Homo sapiens: one gene and its partners. The protein of the gene in region 3 purifies or fractionates together with the protein of the main gene of each other region. This does not show direct contact. Each region holds a gene or a part of one and is shown on either strand. Other genes may lie near its edges.

Evidence for each region.
Region 1: the proteins of ATP6V1F (region 3) and ATP6V1A fractionate together in Homo sapiens (co-fractionation; 3 studies listed by BioGRID and IntAct, with this or other methods). This does not show direct contact.
Region 2: the proteins of ATP6V1F (region 3) and ATP6AP2 purify together in Homo sapiens (affinity purification with mass spectrometry; 5 studies listed by BioGRID and IntAct, with this or other methods). This does not show direct contact.

Annotation. Positions count from the first base shown.
Region 1 is NC_000003.12:113,806,028-113,812,657, forward strand, and holds the end of ATP6V1A (V-type proton ATPase catalytic subunit A), read left to right. Parts: intron 1-3,307; coding exon 3,308-3,400; 3' UTR 3,401-6,029; downstream 6,030-6,630. UniProt on the Homo sapiens protein: Catalytic subunit of the V1 complex of vacuolar(H+)-ATPase (V-ATPase), a multisubunit enzyme composed of a peripheral complex (V1) that hydrolyzes ATP and a membrane integral complex (V0) that translocates protons.
Region 2 is NC_000023.11:40,576,928-40,584,017, forward strand, and holds the start of ATP6AP2 (renin receptor precursor), read left to right. Parts: upstream 1-4,042; 5' UTR 4,043-4,138; coding exon 4,139-4,175; intron 4,176-7,090. UniProt on the Homo sapiens protein: Multifunctional protein which functions as a renin, prorenin cellular receptor and is involved in the assembly of the lysosomal proton-transporting V-type ATPase (V-ATPase) and the acidification of the endo-lysosomal system.
Region 3 is NC_000007.14:128,858,257-128,865,907, forward strand, and holds ATP6V1F (V-type proton ATPase subunit F), read left to right. Parts: upstream 1-4,599; 5' UTR 4,600-4,648; coding exon 4,649-4,806; intron 4,807-6,863; coding exon of another isoform or gene 6,864-6,947; intron 6,948-7,120; coding exon 7,121-7,322; 3' UTR 7,323-7,591; downstream 7,592-7,651. Other genes in the region: FLNC (filamin-C), read left to right, coding at 80-267. UniProt on the Homo sapiens protein: Subunit of the V1 complex of vacuolar(H+)-ATPase (V-ATPase), a multisubunit enzyme composed of a peripheral complex (V1) that hydrolyzes ATP and a membrane integral complex (V0) that translocates protons.

The DNA of each region.
Region 1 (6,630 bases), on a different chromosome or scaffold from region 3:
TTTCAAAGGCTCAGGCAGGAGGATGACTTGAGCCCAGGAGTTCAAGACCAGCCTGGGCAACATGTCGAAATCCCGTCTCTACAAAAAATACAAAAGATTAGCCAGGTGTGGGGCACACACCTGTAGTCTCAGCTATCTGGGAGGCTGAGGTCAAGGCTGCTGCAGTGTGCCATGATCCCACCACTACTCTCCAGCCTGGGCAACACAGTGAGACCCAGTCTCAAAAAACAAAAAAAATTAGTATGTCACGTCTAAAATAAATGCTGATGTGTATTCCCTTTTGTCTTAGTTGCCAGGCAAATTAGAGCTTACTTCATAGCTGAGCAACAGTTGCCTTACTCCAAGTGCCTATTAACCTCTAGCACATGTGTTCTTCTGAAATGACATCTTCTCTGTTTACTTCTTTTAAATATCATGTACTGCAGGTCATTTTTTAACTTTTTTTTTTTTTGAGACAGTCTTGCTCTGTCATCCAGGGTGGAGTACAGTGGCACAATCTCGGCTCACTGCAACCTCCACCTCCTGGGTTCAAGCGATTCTCCTGCCTCAGCCTCCCAAGTAGCTGGGATTACAGGTGCCTGCCACCACGCCCAGCTAATTTTTTGTATTTTTAGTAGAGACGGGGTTTCACCATGTTGTCCAGGCTGGTCTTGAACTCCTGACCTCATGTGATCTACCCGCCTCGGCCTCCCGAAGTGCTGGGATTACAGGCGTGAGCCACCGCATCCAGCCATTTTTTAACTTTTAAGTGGCCTCTTGTTCTTTTGGAAGTACACAAGATAAAAATAGATAATTAAATGAAATTATTAGTAGGAACTCAAATGTATAAGATTGTTTTTAAAATATTTGATCAGTTGAATTGTATTTATTTCTGTCATGACATCCAGGCATATTTACTAACCACCTACTGAGAATGATTCTCTGAGTGTATATGTAATATAAAAATTTTTAAATTATATATATATTTTGTGTGTGTGTTCACACTATAGATTGAAAGTAAACCTGTACAAATAGGTAAGCACTACATTGAGAGTTTAAAAACATTTACACCTTTTTAGTCTTGTCATTTCACCTTGAGATAAATAAACAAAGGAAGTAATCAGAATTTTGATACGGATATACACGGTCGTTTATTAAATTCTTTTTCTTTTTTTTTCTTTTTTTTTTTTTGAGATGGAGTCTTGCTCTGTTGTCCAGGCTGGAGTACAGTGGCACGATCCTGGCCCACTGCAACCTCCCCCTCCCAGGTTCAAGCAGTTCTTCCTGCCTCAGCCTCCCAAGTAGCTGGGATTACAGGTGCATTCACCACACCCAGCTAATTTTTGTATTTTTAGTAGAGACGGGGGTTTCTCTATGTTGGCCAGGCTGGTCTTGAACTCCTGACCTCAGGTGATCTGCCTGCCTCAGCCTCCCAAAGCGCTGGGATTACAGACATGAGCCACTACGCTAAACCAAATTTCTTAAATGTCACCCAAGAATGAACAGAGCCAACAGTACATTATGGTGTGTCCATAAGATAGATATTATGAAGGCATTACCATTTTTGTCAAAAATATTCAAAGACATGGAGAAATGCTTATGGCACAGAGTGAAAAAACTTCCATATGTAACTTGATCCAAATATTGTCTTAAAAAACTATATATTCATAGAAAGAGGATGAAGAAGAAATATACCTGTAGTAATGATGATTTCTATTTACATGCTTATTGTGTCAAATTAACATCACAGGTATTTTTTAATGTCATTACTCTTCTGTAGCATTGTTTTGTGGCTGGAGAGTAATATTTTTCTATTCTTAGACACTTAGAAAATTTCCAGTTGTTGGCCGGGCGCATTGGCTCACGTCTGTAATCCCAGCACTTTGGCAGGCCGAGGCGGGTGGATCACCTGAGGTCAGTTCTAGACCAGCCTGACCAACATGGAGAAACCCCGTCTCTACTAAAAATACAGAATTAGCTGGGCGTGATGGTGCATGCCTGTAATCCCAGCTACTCAGGAGGCTGAGGCAGGAGAATCACTTAAGCCCGGGAGGTGGAGGTTGCGGTGAGCTGAGATCACACCATTGCACTCCAGCCTGGACAACAAGAGCAAAACTCTGTCTGAAAAAAAAAAAAAACAAAGAAAAGAAAAGAAAATTTCCAGTTATTGGTGTGGACAACCATGTAGTTGTGTGTAGTTGGTTTTGTGCATTTTCTTAGTATGGAGTCCCAGAAGTGGAATGATTGGGTTAGAGACCTGGAACATTTTAAAGTCTGTCTCTTTTTTTTTTTTTTTTTTTTTCTGAGACAGAGTGTCACTCTGTCACTAGGCTGGAGTGCAGTGACGCGATCTCAGCTCACTGCAACCTCCGCCTCCTGGGTTCAAGCGAGTCTCCTGCCTCAGCCTCCCAAGTAGCTGGGACTACAGGTGCACGCCACCATGCCCAGCTAATTTTTTTGTATTTTTAGTAGAGACAGGGTTTCACCATGTTGGCCAGGATGGTCTCAATCTCCCGACCTTGTGACTCGCCTGCCTCGGCCCCCCAAAGTGCTGGGATTACAGGCGTGAGCCACCAAGCCTAGCTAAATTATCTTTTATACATATTACTCAGTAAGTTGCCTAAATTTTACTTTTCCATCCCAGTGTGATAATACCAGATGTTGAGCAAATTCTGTTTTGATTAAATTAATTCCTAATTATCATGCATTAAGTCATGTTCATCTAATATATGAAGCGGCATAATTTCCCACTATTGTGCACATTGTTGAGGATAAAGGCTTTGGTCACTGAATGTGGTTATCAGGCAAAATGCAAAATTAAAATTTTGTTTTCTTTCTGTTTGGTTGGATTTGTATCCTTAAGAAAAAGGGAAAATGAGTATAGTTTTACCTCCTGCCTGTGGTTTACCAGTGTCCCTCACTAAACCTAGTACTCAAAATATATAAAATACGAGTAACCTGGGCCAGGTGCAGTGGCTCACGCCTGTAATCCCAGCACTTTGGGAGGCCGAGGCAAGTGGATCACTTGAGATCAGGAGTTCAAGACCAGCCTGGCCAACATGGTGAAACCTGTCTCTACTAAAAATATGAAAAAAAAAATTAGCTGGGCGTGATGGTGGGCGCCTGTAATCCCAACTACTTGGGAGGCTGAGGCAGGAGAATCACTTGAAGCCAGGAGGTGGAGGTTGCAGTGAGCCAAGATCGTGCCACTGCACTCCAGCCTGGGTGACAGAGCAAGACTCTGCCTCCAAAAAAAAAAAAGTAACTTAACATACGTAATGAAAATTATTTTCCAAATGCGAGTTGAATTTGTAATGTCTTCTTTCAGGATCCACTGAAAGATGGTGAGGCAAAGATCAAAAGCGACTATGCACAACTTCTTGAAGACATGCAGAATGCATTCCGTAGCCTTGAAGATTAGAAGCCTTGAAGATTACAACTGTGATTTCCTTTTCCTCAGCAAGCTCCTATGTGTATATTTTCCTGAATTTCTCATCTCAAACCCTTTGCTTCTTTATTGTGCAGCTTTGAGACTAGTGCCTATGTGTGTTATTTGTTTCCCTGTTTTTTTGGTAGGTCTTATATAAAACAAACATTCCTTTGTTCTAGTGTTGTGAAGGGCCTCCCTCTTCCTTTATCTGAAGTGGTGAATATAGTAAATATACATTCTGGTTACACTACTGTAAACTTGTATGTAGGGTGATGACCCTCTTTGTCCTAGGTGTACCCTTTCCTCATCTCTATTAAATTGTAAACAGGACTACTGCATGTACTCTCTTTGCAGTGAATTTGGAATGGAAGGCCAGGTTTCTATAACTTTTGAACAGGTACTTTGTGAAATGACTCAATTTCTATTGTGGTAAGCTCATTGGCAGCTTAGCATTTTGCAAAGGAATTGCTTTGCAGGAAATATTTAATTTTCAAAAACATAATGATTAATGTTCCAATTATGCATCACTTCCCCCAGTATAAATCAGGAATGTTTGTGAGAAACCATTGGGAACTATACTCTTTTTATTTTTATTTTTTATTTTTTTTATTATTTTTTTTTTGGGGACGGAGTGTCCCTCTTGTTGCCCAGGCTGGAGTGCAATGGCGTGATCTTGGCTCACTGCAGCCTTCGCCTCCCGGGTTCAAGTGATTCTCCTGCCTCAGCCTCCCGAGTAGCTGGGATTACAGGCATGCTCCACCATGCCCAGCTAATTTTGTATTTTTAGTAGAAACGGGGTTTCACCATATTGGTCAGGCTGGTCTCGAACTCCAGACCTCAGGTGATCCGCCCACCTCGGCCTCCCAAACTGCTGGGATTACAGGCGTGAGCCACCGCGCCTGGCCAGGGACTATACTCTTTTTAAAATAGACATTTGTGGGGCTCACACAATATATGAAATAGTACCCTCTAAAAAAGAGAAAAAAAAAATCAGGCGGTCAAACTTAGAGCAACATTGTCTTATTAAAGCATAGTTTATTTCACTAGAAAAAATTTAATATCAAGGACTATTACATACTTCATTACTAGGAAGTTCTTTTTAAAATGACACTTAAAACAATCACTGAAAACTTGATCCACATCACACCCTGTTTATTTTCCTTAAACATCTTGGAAGCCTAAGCTTCTGAGAATCATGTGGCAAGTGTGATGGGCAGTAAAATACCAGAGAAGATGTTTAGTAGCAATTAAAGGCTGTTTGCACCTTTAAGGACCAGCTGGGCTGTAGTGATTCCTGGGGCCAGAGTGGCATTATGTTTTTACAAAATAATGACATATGTCACATGTTTGCATGTTTGTTTGCTTGTTGAATTTTTGAACAGCCAGTTGACCAATCATAGAAAGTATTACTTTCTTTCATATGGTTTTTGGTTCACTGGCTTAAGAGGTTTCTCAGAATATCTATGGCCACAGCAGCATACCAGTTTCCATCCTAATAGGAATGAAATTAATTTTGTATCTACTGATAACAGAATCTGGGTCACATGAAAAAAAATCATTTTATCCGTCTTTTAAGTATATGTTTAAAATAATAATTTATGTGTCTGCATATTGCAGAACAGCTCTGAGAGCAACAGTTTCCCATTAACTCTTTCTGACCAATAGTGCTGGCACCGTTGCTTCCTCTTTGGGAAGAGGAAAGGGTGTGTGAACATGGCTAACAATCTTCAAATACCCAAATTGTGATAGCATAAATAAAGTATTTATTTTATGCCTCAGTATATTATTATTTAATTTTTTAGGTAATGCCTATCTCTTGGTCTATTAAGGAAAGAAGCAATCAGTAGAGAATTCAGGATAGTTTTGTTTAAATTCTTGCAGATTACATGTTTTTACAGTGGCCTGCTATTGAGGAAAGGTATTCTTCTATACAACTTGTTTTAACCTTTGAGAACATTGACAGAAATTATGCAATGGTTTGTTGAGATACGGACTTGATGGTGCTGTTTAATCAGTTTGCTTCCAAAGTGGCCTACTCAAGAGGCCCTAAGACTGGTAGAAATTAAAAGGATTTCAAAAACTTTCTATTCCTTTCTTAAACCTACCAGCAAACTAGGATTGTGATAGCAATGAATGGTATGATGAAGAAAGTTTGACCAAATTTGTTTTTTTGTTGTTGTTGTTGTTTTGAATTTGAAATCATTCTTATTCCCTTTAAGAATGTTTATGTATGAGTGTGAAGATGCTAGCGAACCTATGCTCAGATATTCATCGTAAGTCTCCCTTCACCTGTTACAGAGTTTCAGATCGGTCACTGATAGTATGTATTTCTTTAGTAAGAATGTGTTAAAATTACAATGATCTTTTAAAAAGATGATGCAGTTCTGTATTTATTGTGCTGTGTCTGGTCCTAAGTGGAGCCAATTAAACAAGTTTCATATGTATTTTTCCAGTGTTGAATCTCACACACTGTACTTTGAAAATTTCCTTCCATCCTGAATAACGAATAGAAGAGGCCATATATATTGCCTCCTTATCCTTGAGATTTCACTACCTTTATGTTAAAAGTTGTGTATAATTGTTAAAATCTGTGAAAGAATAAAAAGTGGATTTAAATTAACATTTTTTTCTTTTTCTCTTTTTTATGGCACAATCTGCTAGAAAATATGTACCTTGTATCTTGACTTAATGTTTTGGTATGACCTTTTAAAATTTTTTCCTTCCTTTTTTATAGATTGTTACTTAAGATTATGAAATTGAATTGGAGCCCTCATTATAGCCTGCAAAAAGTCCCATAACTGTATCACACTATGTTTTGGAAATATAATCTACAGAATCCCATCCCATTCTGAATTTTACTTTGAGAAAGTGAATGGTTTCTATAAATTCACTTCTAAGTGCAAGGAAATCAGTGGTACTCTTCAGTTTTTAACAAGTAAACTAAAGCCTTGTAATTTATGATTTTGCAAGCCAATTTAAAGTCCAATATAACAATGTGCAACATCCTTTGTAGCAATTCATTATGGTACGTAGGATATATTTTATTTCCTTAAATGTTGTATTTTTAACAATTTCCAAAGGAGTGAAGAAGCAGTGTCAAAGAACTGTATATTACCATTGAGTCTGAAGTTTATGTAGAGAAATAGTTTAAAAATCATGAGAAGACTTCTTCATTATAGAGCCAGTAATTTTTTGTCCATTAGGTAATATCCCAATATCTT
Region 2 (7,090 bases), on a different chromosome or scaffold from region 3:
TGGATTCTTTAAAAATATAGTTTCTGGGTTTTTTTTTTTTTTTTTTTTTTTTTTGGAGATAGCGTTGCCCTCTGTCACCCAGGCTGGAGTGCAATGATGAGATCTTGACTTACTGCAGTCTCAACCTCCTGGGTTCAAGTGATCCTCCTGTCTCAGCCTCCCCAGTAGCTGGGACTACAGGTATGCGCTACCATGCCTGGCTAATTTTTTTTTCTTTTGAAACAGGGTCTCACTTTGTCGCCCAGGCTAAATTGCAGTGGCACAAGCTTGACTCACTGCAACCTCCGCCTCCCAGGTTCAAGCGATTCTCCCGCCTTGGCCTCCCGAGTAGCTAGGACTACAGGCACGTACCACCATACCTGGCTAATTTTTGTATTTTTTGGTAGTGATGGGGTTTCACCATGTTGACTAGGCTGGTCTTGAACTCCTGACCTCAAGTGATCCACTCGCCTAGGCCTCCCAAACTGCTGGGATTACAGGTGTGAGCCACCGCGCCCAGCCCAGACTTTCCTTGTTTTTGATGACTTCTGAGGAGCAGCAGTCAGATATTTTGTAGAATGCCCCTCTATTGGCATTTATCTGATGTTTTTCTCATGATTACACTGGGGTTATGGGTATGGGGGAGGAAGATCATAGAGGTGAAGTGCCTGCCATTATCATTGTATCACATCAAGGGCACACACTGTCAACATGACCGATCACTGTTGGTGTTGACCTTGATCACATCGCCTAGATAGTATTTGTTGGGTTTTTGCACTGCAAAGCTGCTCTCCCCTCCCCCACACCTTTCCATAGTGTATATAGTACCTTTTGAAGAACATAAATTCTTAATTTTAACTGCATGGTCTGGGAGAGGGGCATGATCTTCGCCTCCACAGGGCTCCTGGATGGGATGTCTCATTTGCAGGGATCAGCTCATGTTATCGCGCTCACTCCGGGATCACTCAGAACTCACTGCTGGACTTAATTGGGGGACGAGGGCGAGACTTAAGGAAGCAAATGGAATTATGTATTCTTTCAAATCTTGCATCTGGACCTCTAGTTTTGAAACTCAAGAGCCAAGAATTTGACATTTGTTTTCAGGTTCTCCTGAGAGTCCTCCCCTCAGGGCAACGGATGGCTGCAGTCTTGCCTATTTGGCCTGTGGGGAGGGTGGAGAAAGGCTTCTTTTAGGCTAACAAATGGGGTCATAACTTCAAATATTGTATTACCCTGCTACACACATATCCATCTCTAAATGCTTCAGTGGAAAAGTTAACCGCACATCACCAGTTGTTTACTGAGCGCTAAAGATTGAATCAGCAGGGCTGCATTCACGAAGCAGAACTGCTGACGATTCAGAATATGACCTTGAGTACATATGCCCTTCCCTAGGCTTCAATCTCTCAATCTATGAAACAAGGAGAGGGCTTCCGACAATGTTTATCTTGCTAAATTCCAAGGTTGTAGAGAACAACAATGCCCCTTTGCAACCTCAGGTGAAAAGGGCCCTTAGGTGTAAAGAATACACTATTCGCTGTTAGCTCAAAAGGGGATGTTATTTCTCAAGACATAAATGGATTGTGAAAGATTGTGAGGTTTTCTGGGGGAATGGGGGGGTGGGGACTTATTTTATATTCCAGTCTATTTACAAATTTTTTCATCTTCCTCAAATTCAAAGAAATAAGAATGTACTAGAAGTCTTAAGAACAGAAACATTCACTCCTTTCCCTGTTTCCTTAAGCTGGATGAAATGGCAGGAGGTCTGCTCCACTTTTAGCTGATTATGTCCCTAAATAAGGTTTAGATAAGTTCTTGCAGGGCCTGTGATTCAAAACCTGTTCTAAGACATGCAGGGAGATGGACAAAGAATTTTAGTTGGTGTGAAAAGATTGTGAATTTATCATGCTTAAAAATGAATTTTTAAAAATGATTAATTTTTTTCCGCCGGGAGCAGTGGCTCACGCCTGTAATCTCAGCACTTTGGGAGGCTTTAGTGGGTGGATCGCCTGAGGTCAGGAGTTCGAGACCAGCCTGGCCAACATGGTGAAACCCCGTCTCTACTAAAAATACAAAAATTAGCCGGGCGTGGTGGTTGGCGCCTGTAATCCCAACTACTTGGGAAGCTGAGGCAGGAGAATTGCTTGAACTCGGGAGTTGGAGGTTGCAGTGAGCTGAGATCGCACCACTGCACTCCAGCCTGGGCAACAAGAGGGAAACTTCGTCTCAACAACAACAAAAAAAGTGATTAATTTTTTTCGAGTCAGTCACATTAGAGTGGATGTTTTGGAGGGGTGCTTTAGACATTTTGGTTCTAATAATTTCACATGCCTGATGGAAAAATCTCTCTTCTCCCTTTCAGAGTTCTCTAAAGTCCCATTTGTACAAATTCTCCTCTAGAGGAAAAGCAAGTTTGAGAGTTTCCTGTTTCTTGACGTTAGGTGAGGAAATCGACTCTGTTCCCTAAATTTGAGAGTGGCTTTGGTAAGCATAGTGTGTTCTAGAAAGTTCAAACTATTTAGTGAGTGTTTCTCTTTTTTTGCTTTCTTTATTTTCTAATAATAAAAAGACAGGGCCTCACTATGTTATCCAGGCTGGTTTTCAACTCCTGGTGTCAAAGGATCTTCCCACCTCGGCCTCTCAAAGCGCTGGGATTACAGGTGTGAGCCACCACACCTGGCCTCGAGAGTGTCTTTCTGATTCAGTTTTCAGTTGGGCAAGGTTTTCCTAGGGTGGGTCTGCTACCTGGGGAACTCCTGGGGTCACTGTTTTTAACTCGCTCTCATTTTTTCATCCTCAGGAAACTCCAAGAAGAAAATGGGACTGGAAACTGAAGAAACAGTAAGGCATTCCCCCCCTCCCCCCCGCCAATAAGTCTGTCTTACATTTGTGCAGTAAATCATGCTCAAACGCCTTCAATGGCTTAGTGTAGGTCTCTTATGTACAATTTAAAATCCTCAATAAATGTGCCTAACTGAAAGTTTTAGCTCTGTGCCTCCTCTCTCATATAATCTCTTATTTGATTACTGATGCTTAACCTGACGGGGCTTTCTCCCCACCTTAACTACAGTTTTCACTGGAACAATCTCCCCATCTCCTATCCTTGGATATGAAATCATTTCCACCTTTCAAGGTCATCAGCTGGGGCGTCATTTTCTACCTACAGACGCTATAGTGTGTCCCTTCTTGCCTCACATCATAGGCAAAAGACTATGAACTGCGGGAGGGGAGGAGCCTGGTCTAATTACTATGTCTAGCCTTCATACATCCTCATAGAACACCTTGCCCAGATTGGAAACTGAGTGAATGGACAAATTAAGTAATTAATTAACTTTCTGTCCCATGACTCCTTGTAGATTGGAAAGTCTTTGGAGGTAGAGTTGCCAGACTTAGCGAATCAAAATATAGGATACCCAGTTATATTTGAATTTCAGATAACCAGTAATACTTCTTTTAATACAAGTATGTCCCATAAATTAATTGCGACATAATAACAAATAATCGTTGTTTACATGAAATTCAAATTTAACTGGGCGCCCTGTATTTTATCTGGCACCACTATGTGGAAGGCAGGGGTTCCCCGTTGCGCCTGGCTTCTTCCCAGTAGGTGCTCGGCGTCTGTATACTTGTTAGAGCGAAACCCCAACCAGCCCCGCCTTTCACAGCTGGCGTCCGTAGCCGGGCGGAGGCACACGACCAGGAAAGACAGACACCCTGGTTGGAGACCGTCGCTCGAGACTGGCAGAAAGATCTGCACTCGGGAGGCACCCTCACCCCGTGGGCTCCGGGACCCCTCGACTAGCTCCATCACCCATTCCGACTACCCGCCCTACGCTCCACCTCTTGACCCGTCATCACCGACCGGGGGGCGGGACTGCCCGACTTTTCAATCGCTGCCTACCATTGGTAGAACTCTCCATCCGTTACTTTAAGTCCCGCCTATCAGGCTGTCGCTTCCCAGGTTACGTCCCTTCCGTAGGCCGCGGCGTAACTGGTGATTGGTGGAGAAAGCGGCAGCTGTCCCAGCGGAAGCGACGAAGGGACGGGACCCGGGAGCCTGGACGAGTCCGAGCGCGTCACCTCCTCACGCTGCGGCTGTCGCCCGTGTCCCGCCGGCCCGTTCCGTGTCGCCCCGCAGTGCTGCGGCCGCCGCGGCACCATGGCTGTGTTTGTCGTGCTCCTGGCGTTGGTGGCGGGTGAGGAGCCGGGGGCCGGCAGGACGTGCCTGGGGAGGTCCTGCGCCGCGGGGCTTGGGGGTCGGGGGCGGCCGCGGGCGAGTAGCTGCGAGGCAGGTGCCGCAGTGCGGTCCGTCAGCGGCGGCCTCGCCTCAGCCGCGTCCCCGTCAGCATCTTCTCTGGATCGGCCGTGGCGGCGCGGCCTCACGGGCCGCCGGGGCCGGGGCTGGGCTGCGTAGGGGGCCCCTGAGCCTGCCTCCACCCTCCACTTTGAGGGCGGCGCGTCCGGCCGGCTTCTTGCGCCTGAAAAGGCCCTTCAGAGTACGGAGATGCATTTCTCAGTGAACTGGGATTGAGTCGCAGCCCGCTGCGAAGAAGAGAAGGCAGACTTTTTAGCTGCCACTGGCTGCCACGATGTTTTTGCATTTGTATGGTGCCTTCATTTCTAGTGGTTGTCATCAGTAATTGCTGAAATCCCTGCCCCTCCCTTCCCTTATGTATATTTCCGGATGCAAAAGTTGAGATGGAGTCATTATTTTTATATGACTTATATTTCTTAAGGCGAATACAAAGCACCTCTCAATAGTTTGTCAGAGTTCCAAATTTTAAGGATTTGGAAACAGGATGTGAGTCGCATTTTTAGGGTCACATGTCAATAAATGGTAGCTTTCTGAGTAGAACCTAGATTCCTAAGCATTCAGCAAGAGGTGAAGAAATCAGCTAATACGTGGCCTCTTACTGCATATCATGTGGTAATGTATTTCATTTGACAGCAGTCCTTAGAGGGCATCATCTTTGTTTTGCAGGGTGATCAACCTAAATAAATTACCCAACACTAAACAGGTTGGGTGCTGGATTTGATTTCAGATGAGGTGGTGCCAGCGCATCGGCCTTTTCCATTATATATGTTGTGTTGCACAAGTAACGCTATTACTGTGTGAGAATGTGGGAGTGATGGGGACTGAGACTGGAGGCACAGACAGTAGTGAACAAGAGGCCAAGTTGAGAACGGCTTGGAGGAATGGGTGCTCTGATCTCAGTGTGTCAGTTTAAAACCTATGGGAGGCCGGGCGCGGTGGTTCACGCCTGTAATCCCGGCACTTTGGGAGGCCGAAGCAGGCAGATCACCTGAGGTCAGGAGTTTGAGACCAGCCTGGCCAACAAGGCAAAACGCCATCTCTACTGCAAATATAAAAATTAGCCGGGTGTGTTGGGGCACACCTGTAATCCCAGCTACTCAGGAGGCTGAGGTACGAGAATCGCTTGAGCCCGGGAGGCGGAGGTTGCAGTGAGCCGAGATCGCGCCATTGCACTCCAGCCTGGGCGATAGAGCCAGACCTTGTCTCAGAAGCAAAAACAAACATACAAACAAACCAAAAACCTATGTGAGGTGTTGGGAGGTCCTGCTTGTGGAATGGCGATTTAATTCTGCACCAGTATGCTCTTGAAATCTGCAGATCTCTGTCCCTAGAGGTGCGGGGGTTTTGTGTGTTAATGATAGTTACGTTGTATCCATGCCCCAAACGTTTTCGAGTTCTTTGTTTCTTTCTTCTGTTTCTGGCTCTGGAAAGGTCTTTCTGATCTACTGAGATACTTTGAGGGAATTAATTTTAATTCAGTTTTTGAAATTTTAAAAATATTCCCTTTGATCCTGTGGTTTAACTGAACATCTATTGAGATTCCATGTTTTAATATTTTGACTGATATTATTTTGATTCAGTGAGGTATAGGCTTTTTTGTTTTGGGTCTGAGATAAAATAATTGCTTCTGCACATGGTTTGAACATGTTTTCCTTACTAGCATAGCCGAGTTCATACAGAACAAGAACCTGATCCTGTCAGCTTCTGAATTGCTCAGTCTTGTCAGATGAGGTTCAGTTATTATTTTCCACAATGACTAAATGTGATGTAGTGGAAAACATCTTTAAGAGCTCTGACTTCTCTATTCCAGGCAGAAACAAAAATAGAAATCCTTTAAAACAGTGTTGCCAAACTAGAGGGAGAACTAGGGACCTAGAGAGAGAGGAAGGGAACTAGGATTTTGAATACCATATCATGAGGCGTATTTGATAAAATTCAGATATTTAGCCTGGAGAAGAAAGGCCAAGGGTGAACACATGGAATTTGAAGTGATGTCATGTAGAAGAGGGAGATAGGATCCATTTTTTTATTATTATTGATTCCATCCACCATTCGTAGACGATAATAGCACAGTATAGTGGAGTTCCTAGAGGGAAGGACACTTAGCCCAGACTGGGGAGGCTGAGGAAAATTTCCCATGGGAGGTGCCTCCCAGGGCTAATGTGTTGAAAAGTTGGGGTGGGAAGAAAAGGTATTTGAAACAGAACAGCATGTGTAAAAGCATGGCGATGTGAGAGCAAAGGGGCAAGTAGTTTGGTGGGGCTGAAATGTACAGGATTAAGTTGGGGAGATACCAGAAATAAGGCTGATGAGGTTTCTTGGGTGTTAATGCTTTGGGTTTTGCCTCAGAGTCTCTGGGCAGTGAGAGAAGGCATTTAAGCAGAAGGGTGAATGATCAGATCTGTATTTTGAAGCAGTTATGGGAAAGGCTGGATTAGAGAGTGGCATGACAAGGGTCATAAGGCACCCAATTCTAGCAAACCTGGAGAGGGCCTGAAGAGTGTGCCCTGGACATAGAGGGGAAAGGATTTGTGAGATAAGAAAAAAAGATGAAATTCAGTGGCTAATTAGCTGTGTTGCTGAGGAAGATTTAAAGACGACTGATTCCAGCCACTGGGTGGAAGGAAGGTGGTATCATCCTTCAAGATAGAATACAGGAGAAGTGTGTGGAAAGATGGTGAATTGGGTGTGTTTTTGGTGTTTGCAGCCTTAGGAGTAGTTGGGCTCAGCCTGGGAGAGATGTAGAATAGGAAAGCAGTAAGAGTCAAGAATGGAGCCCTCAGATCTCCAAAGTGG
Region 3 (7,651 bases):
AGAAGCCGTCAGGGAGCAGGGTGTGGGTCACAGTAGGGGACTCCCTGGTGTGAGCCTGTCCCTCTGCCTCCCTCTCCAGGCACCAACATGATGATGGTGGGCGTGCACGGCCCCAAGACCCCCTGTGAGGAGGTGTACGTGAAGCACATGGGGAACCGGGTGTACAATGTCACCTACACTGTCAAGGAGAAAGGGGACTACATCCTCATTGTCAAGTGGGGTGACGAAAGTGTCCCTGGAAGCCCCTTCAAAGTCAAGGTCCCTTGAATCCCAAAAGTGCCTCCCCAGCCTCAGCCCCCACCTCCAGCCACACACACATTACACACACACACACACACACACAAATGTGCCACACCCAGACACGCACAGAATCAGACACTACAAACACCTGCCTTGGGGGTGAAGTGAAGGCCCAGCCTCCCCACCCCACCGCGCCCCAGGGGTTGGAGGACCTTGTCTGTGTCAGGACAGTGTCCCTCCCTGGGAATGTGACATGAGGGCCGACTGGGGCCAGGCTCAGGGGCAGAGGCTGGGACACAAGGGGCTGGCGAGGGCTGCGAGGCCAGGGAAGCCCTGAGTTTCTGGCGGGGCTGAGCAGTGGGGGAGCATTGTGTTGTGGGTGTCTGTGTGTGAGGTCACCCTCAAACTGCACCGCCGGCCAGATACCCTCCTGACCCCGAGGACTTGGTCTGGTCTCTCTGGTGGCTACAACCCCAGAGTTTTAAGGACTTGGAAAGGAAAGCACAATCAGAGAAGAAAACAGCCCCCGAACCAGCAGGAGTGGCCTGGCACATGGACCGGCCTGAGCGATGTGCACTCCACCCAAGCCAGGCTCCCAGGGGGCCTGATTTCTCTCTCACTGTCTCTTTTTTTAAAATGGTTGCACGGCTCTGCCCCATGGGGGGCCTTTTTTACACACTGCGAGGCCCAGCTTTCTAGGGGACTTTTGCACATGTCATGCAGCTCAGCTGGGAGCTGCTTAGGTGGAAAACTCCAAATAAAGTGCGGCTGTCGCAGAGGGTTGGCTGTTCCTTGGGGGTGTGCTCTGTGTGGCTGGCTGCCCTCTGGCCTGCCACACGAAAAACCGGGCCCTGGGGAGGCAGAGGCGGCCTGGCTGTTCCCTGGAAGATTGACCCAGTCGAGGGAAAGGTCCTGGGGCAGAAGTGAGGTCTGGGATGTTGGCAGAGTGCTTGAAAGAACCGGGGGTGGGGGCTCGGGGATGTGGGAAGGGGTCCCAGCGGGAGGGTTCGTGGACAGTACAGGGTGTGGATACTGTGTTCTACAGTACTGTCCCAGGACCCCTGGGAGGCCAGTTTCAGTTCAGCTTGACCTCAAGGATGTTTTTCAAATTAAGACTTTAAAACAGTGAGCACTGACTCAAACAGGAATATTCCTCAACCAGCAGGCAGGCAGAACCACCTGCAGACTCAGCACCTTCCCCCTAGTCAGTTCCTGAATCAACTTGGCCTGTTTCATGCCCCTTTCCAGCACTAAGCTTGCACAGGGCCTCCCTCCTGAACTCCTGCAACAGCCCTGCCCTGGCCAGCTCCCTCCAACCTCCCCTCCATGCTGCAGCTTGGCGGGGGGGTCACTTTAAAGATAGTATATGCCCCTCTCTGGTTTAGGGCCATCTGTGACTCCCTCCTGCTCCAGAGTAAAGTCTCCTCTTCCTGACAAGGTCTCCAGGGCCACCCAGGTTCAGACAGCAGCCTCCCCAGCCATATGAGTTGGGCAGCAGGCCCACTCTCCATTGTGCCCTCCACCTCCAACCCCCCTTCATTACCTCTGGGCACCCATGCTGTAATTTGGGCCCTTGCCCGGAAACACCTTTGCCTCCCCACCCTCTTCATCTTCCTGGCCAACAGGAAGTTTTCCTGGACCCCTCCCTACCCCTCCTGGATCAGTGCCCCCAGCTCCCAAACTGCCCTGGGACACATCTCTAGTTGCAGTTACGACCCTGAGCTGTGGCCATGTATCCACGGCTCCCCACCAGATGGAGCTCCCTGGCCCTGGGTGTGAATGAGTGAGTGAATGGGTATGAATGAATAAATGAGCAGCTGAGTAGCTGCAGCAGGGAAAAGAAGTCTTTCATTCAACTGATCCCACAATCTAGACCCACCTGGGCATTTCAGCACATGGTGGTGGGCTTGGCAGAAAAACCCACGAGTCCCCAACTCCTAATCCCTGACCTCCCCACCTCTCTCACCAGGCTCTGTGCTTCCTCCCTCTTCCCTCACACCCTCCCACACACCCATCCTCACTCTCTGCCCCCCTCACCCTCACCCTCACCCCTAGATGTGCTAATTTCCCCCTCAGCTTCGGCTGCCTCCACCTGTGTGTGGCTGATAAGCTCACAGACCTCCAGCCTGCCTGCTTCCAGCCAGCCACAGTGTGGCCCTGGGTGCTGAGCCTTACAGGCCCTTCCTCATTAATCCTCATAACAGCCCTATGAGGTGGGGCTACTACCATCTGAAGAAACCAAGGCCCTGGGAATTTCAGTGATGAGTCTGAAACCGTACCTTTAAGTAGTGGGGCACAGATTGAAACCCAGGTGTGCCCGAATCCCAAGCTTATCACACATACAATCGCTAGACCAGACCACGGGCACGTCTCAAGCACTCCAAACTCACAAACCCCATGCCAGACACCGGGAGTGCTGATTTGTTAAAAGGGAGGAGGAAAGAGTGGCTCCTTCCCCTTCAGCCTGCTCATCTTACAGAGGTCACTTTCTTGGCAATGTTACTCCCATCCATGTGCTGCACAGGCCAGAAACCTGGAAATCACCCAGGTCTCTCTCTCTACCTCACTCCCCAAACACATCCACTCTGAAACCAGTTTTGTCCTAAATATCTAAATATCTCTCGGCTCTACCTACTTCTCTGCGTTTCCCATTATCACCACCTGAGTCCTGGCCACCATTATCTCTCACAGTGGCCTCCCAATTTGGTTTCTCCTCCCTCAGTTTCGCCTCTGCACACAGCACAGTCAACAGTGAGTGACAGCTCTAAAACGTAAGTTTGGCGATAGCACTCTCTTACTTGAAATCCCTCAGCAGCTTCAGGATAACTGTCCTCAGGATAACTTCCAGATCTTTTTTTTTTTTTTTTTTTTTTTTTAGACAGAGTCTCACTCTGTCACCTAGGCTGGAGTGCAGTGGCGCCATCTCAGCTCACTGCAACCTCCCTTGCCCGGGTTCAAGCAATTGTCCTGCCTCAGCCTCCCGAGTAGCTGGGACTACAGGCACACACCACCTCACTGGGCTAATTTTTTTTGTATTTTTAGTGGAGATGGGATTTCACCATGTTGGCCAGACTGGTCTCAAACTCCTGACTTCAGGTGATCTACCCGCCTCAGCCTCCCAAAGTGCTGGGATTACAGGCGTGAGCCACCGCGCCCAGCCTGCAGATCCTTTTTTTTTTTTTTTAGACAGGGTCTCGCTCTGCTGCTCAGGTTTAAGTGCAGTGCCGTGATCATAGCTCACTGTAACCTTGAACTCCTGAGTAAGCCCTGCTGCCTCAGCTTCTCGAGTACCTGGAACTATAAGTGTGCACCACCACGCCTGGCTAATTTTTTTTTTTTTTTTTTTTTTTTTTTTTTGAGACAGAGTCTCGCTCTGTCACCCAGGCTGGAGTGCAATGGCACAATCTCGGCTCACTGCAACCTCCGCTTCCCGGGTTGAAGCAATTCTCCTGCCTCAGCCTCTCGAGTAGCTGGGACTACAGGCGCCCACAACCACGCCCGGCTAATTTTTTGTGTTTTTAGTAGAGACGGGTTTTCGCCATGTTGGCCAGGCTGGTCTCAAACTCCTGACCTCAGGTGATCCACCTGCCTCAGCCTCCCAAAGTGCTGGGATTACAGGTGTGGCGTGAGCCACCATGCCTGGCCTTACCAATTATTTAACTTTCCTTGAAGGCCCTACGCTCTCTAGTCAGTACGCCTTTGCACATGCTGTTCCTCTGCCTAGAACACCGTCTTGTCCTCACTTCTATCCCCTTCATCCTGCAGGTCCTTCAGGTCTCAGCTTAGATCTGAAGCAAGCTTCTTGGGGAAGGGTTCTTTGGACGCCCCCTCTCTCCATGGGTTAGTTACCATGGATGTGTGCTTCCATATACTTTTCACATTCTAACCATTAACACACAGCTTTGTAGTCGCCTGTTCCCTTGACTTTCCACCTCACTAGGCAGTATCATCATTAACTTTTGCATTCCTTTAACTGAACAAACGTGTGTTACTTGTTAACTATGTGTCATAGTTACACACATACATACACGATAAAGACCCAGACCCTGCCCTTGAGATGAGTAACTGCGTCTCTTCTCTGGGGTCTCGGCGTCTAACAGCGTCAGGTCCAAAGCGCTTGTTGAACGAATGAACCAAGGAACGAGTGAATGAACGAATGAATGCCCGCGAAGGACGTGGTGCCGCGCGGTCTTCTGGGAATCGTAGTCCCCTGGTTCGGGCCTGTCTTTACGGCGCAGGCGTATTCACATGGAGGCCGTGTTGCTGTTAATGCGCATGTCCCGGAATGCGGCTGGGAGGACTGCGCATGCTCGAAGGGTGGGGGTTGAGGCCGACGGGGCGCCGTACGGCGGAGGCGGGGTTTCAGTGGCTTCTGGTGCTCTAGGGTGAGCTCTGCCCGGCTGCAGGGATGGCGGGGAGGGGTAAGCTCATCGCAGTGATCGGAGACGAGGACACGGTGACTGGTTTCCTGCTGGGCGGCATAGGGGAGCTTAACAAGAACCGCCATCCCAATTTCCTGGTGGTGGAGAAGGATACAACCATCAATGAGATCGAAGACACTTTCCGGTACGGTACCGCGCGAGGCCTGAACGGGCCCTTCTGCTGCTCGGTGGAGTGCGGGGCGAGGCTGGAGGCTGCCCGGACGGGGGTGAGGGGACGATCCTGAAAGTCCTTCCGCCCTTCCGGAGCGGAGGCCTCCGCGCCCCAAGTCCCCGTTTGGGGCTCGGTGGGACAGAAGCTGTATCAGGTCCACGAGCCCCCCCACCTCACATGATCGTGTGTCATGAAAGAAGGGGAACAGAGCTCGTGACAGCCTAGACAGTGGGCTTGGACTTTGTTCTGCTTTCTCCTCCTTTAGAGGCTCACCATCGTCCCGTAAGGCAGGGATGATTTTTGTCCTACTCACAGGTGAGAAAACTAAAGCTCGGAGAGGGTAAGGCACACACTAAAGTTACGAGTCGGCAGAGGCAGAGCTAGAATTTGAACCCAATCTCAACCCTTTCTGCCTCCGGTAAGCCAGGTACACACTCTTGGCAGGTCTCCTCAGGCGGCCTCGGAATTTCCTTGTAGTCTTGAGCACAGTAGGCAGAAATGTCGGGACTGTGAGAGCCTTCTGCTAAGACCTTGCACTCAAGCCCTCACTGCCTGCCTTAGGTCAGAGTGTGGGTGCAGGCATGCTTTTAATCCACCAGGGGTCCTGGTGACTGGAATTAAGGATACCAGCCTCCTATTTTATTCCTCACCCCTTCTCCAGGGCCCCTGTACCAAGTCTCAGGAATAAACCACTCACCTGTTTCCCCCAAACAGTCCAGCCCAGGGCTGCTGGCTGAGACTGGTTCCTGCTGCCTGGTGTATTAGGTAGTCCCTGACCTGGGAGGCTGTTATCTGCCATTCTCTAAGCTGTCTGGTAAAGTGACCCAAGTTATCATGGGAGAAGGACAAATTTTACTTCAAGAATTTTTTATGTTTCCAACCAAAAGGGACCTCAGAGATCAAATCTAACCCAGTGACTGGCAGGGGGTGGGTGCTCAGTAAGTAATTTTTAATCAGTAAATAAACGAATGAGTCTGGGTGCAGTGGCTCACGCCTGTAATCCCAACAGTTTTGGAGGCCGAGGCGGGTGGATCACCTGAGCTCGGGAGTTTGAGACTAGCCTGACCAATATGGTGAAACCCCATTTCTACTAAAAATACAAAAATTAGCCAGGCGTGGTGGCGGGTGCCTGTAATCCCAAGAAATCAGGAGGCTGAGGAAGGAGAATTGTTTGAACCTGGGAGGTGGAGACTGCAGTGAGCCGAGATCCACCACTGCACTCCAGCCTGGGTGACAGAGGGAGACCCTGTCTCAAAAAAATAAAAATAAAATAAACAAATGAATGGGTGGGTGACCACAGGAGAGAAGGAGCACAAGGCCAGGTTCTTTTTGTGCAGAAAGTGTGATTCCTTCATCAAGGTGTCCTCTTCCTAGCTTGTGATCTTAGTTCATGCCAAACTTTCCCTCTGACCCCTCCACCACCCTCATCAGGATAGACCTTGAGGCCTTCAGTGGTCTCATCAGCCCTATTTTTAAATAATTTGTTTTCTTTTTAAAAGTTAATGTGTCTTTTTTTTTTTTTTTTTCTGAGACAGGGTCTCACTCCTGTCACCCAGGCTGGATTGCAGTGGCGTGATCGCAGCTCACTGCGGCCTCGACTTCCCAGGCTCAAGTGATTCTCCCACCTCAGCTTCCTAAATAGCTAGGACTACAGCTTCCCAAGTAGCTGGCACATGCCGCCACATCCAGCCATTTTTTTTTTGTGTGTATATATATAGATAGATAGATAGATCCGCCACATCCAGCCATTTTTTTGTGTGTGTATATATAGATAGAGAGAGAGAGAGAGAGAGAGGGAGATGGGGGTCTCACTATGTGGCCCATTCTGGTCTCAAACTCCTGGGTTCAAGCAATCCACCTGCCTCGGCCTCCCAAAGTGCTGGGATTACAGGCGTGAGCCATCACAGCTGGCCTTCAGTATCTGCACATAAAAAGGGATCTGCATACATATAATCTTATCCTTCCCCTTTCTGACACATCACTGCATATTGAATACACCAGTGTGCACCCTAATCAATCTTCATTACCAGTTCACTTGGAAGCCTTCCGGGCAGTGTTGTAGAAGCCAACCCTAATCAGCGTGACCCTCCGCTTTGGGATGAAATTGATTCTAGGTAGGGTTGACAGAGGGTTGAGCGTGGCAGCCTTTCCCCTTGTCCTCTGTGCCCTCTGGGTCATGCTCATTCCCCTCCACAGCCCAGCCCAACAACTCGGAGAGGGCTGCCTGGGTAGGAGAGACGGCAGCCCCCAGAGCTGTCCTGGACTCCCTTCTCATCTCTCCCCACAGGCAATTTCTAAACCGGGATGACATTGGCATCATCCTCATCAACCAGTACATCGCAGAGATGGTGCGGCATGCCCTGGACGCCCACCAGCAGTCCATCCCCGCTGTCCTGGAGATCCCCTCCAAGGAGCACCCATATGACGCCGCCAAGGACTCCATCCTGCGCAGGGCCAGGGGCATGTTCACTGCCGAAGACCTGCGCTAGGGGACTCCTCATAGCCCTCAGCCCTTCCCTCGTTTCCAGGCCTCTCCCCAGGCTTGCCATCAGCCTTCTTTACTTTTTGAGCCTCTGATTTCCAATTCCCTGCTCCTTCCCACTCCATTAAGAGGCTAGGTGAGGCGCTTCTAGGTTGCTGGGGCTCTGCTGGTTAAGGAACAGGAAGCCTGACCATCTCCCTCCACTACCTCTTCCCTGTGCTGTTACACAGTGTCATTGTTGATGTTAAATTAAAGTCATATTCTTGCTTCTCTCCAGATGGGTTGGGTGCTGGAAAGGACATGTGTGGGGTGAGGCCATGGGGCAGATTCGGTTGG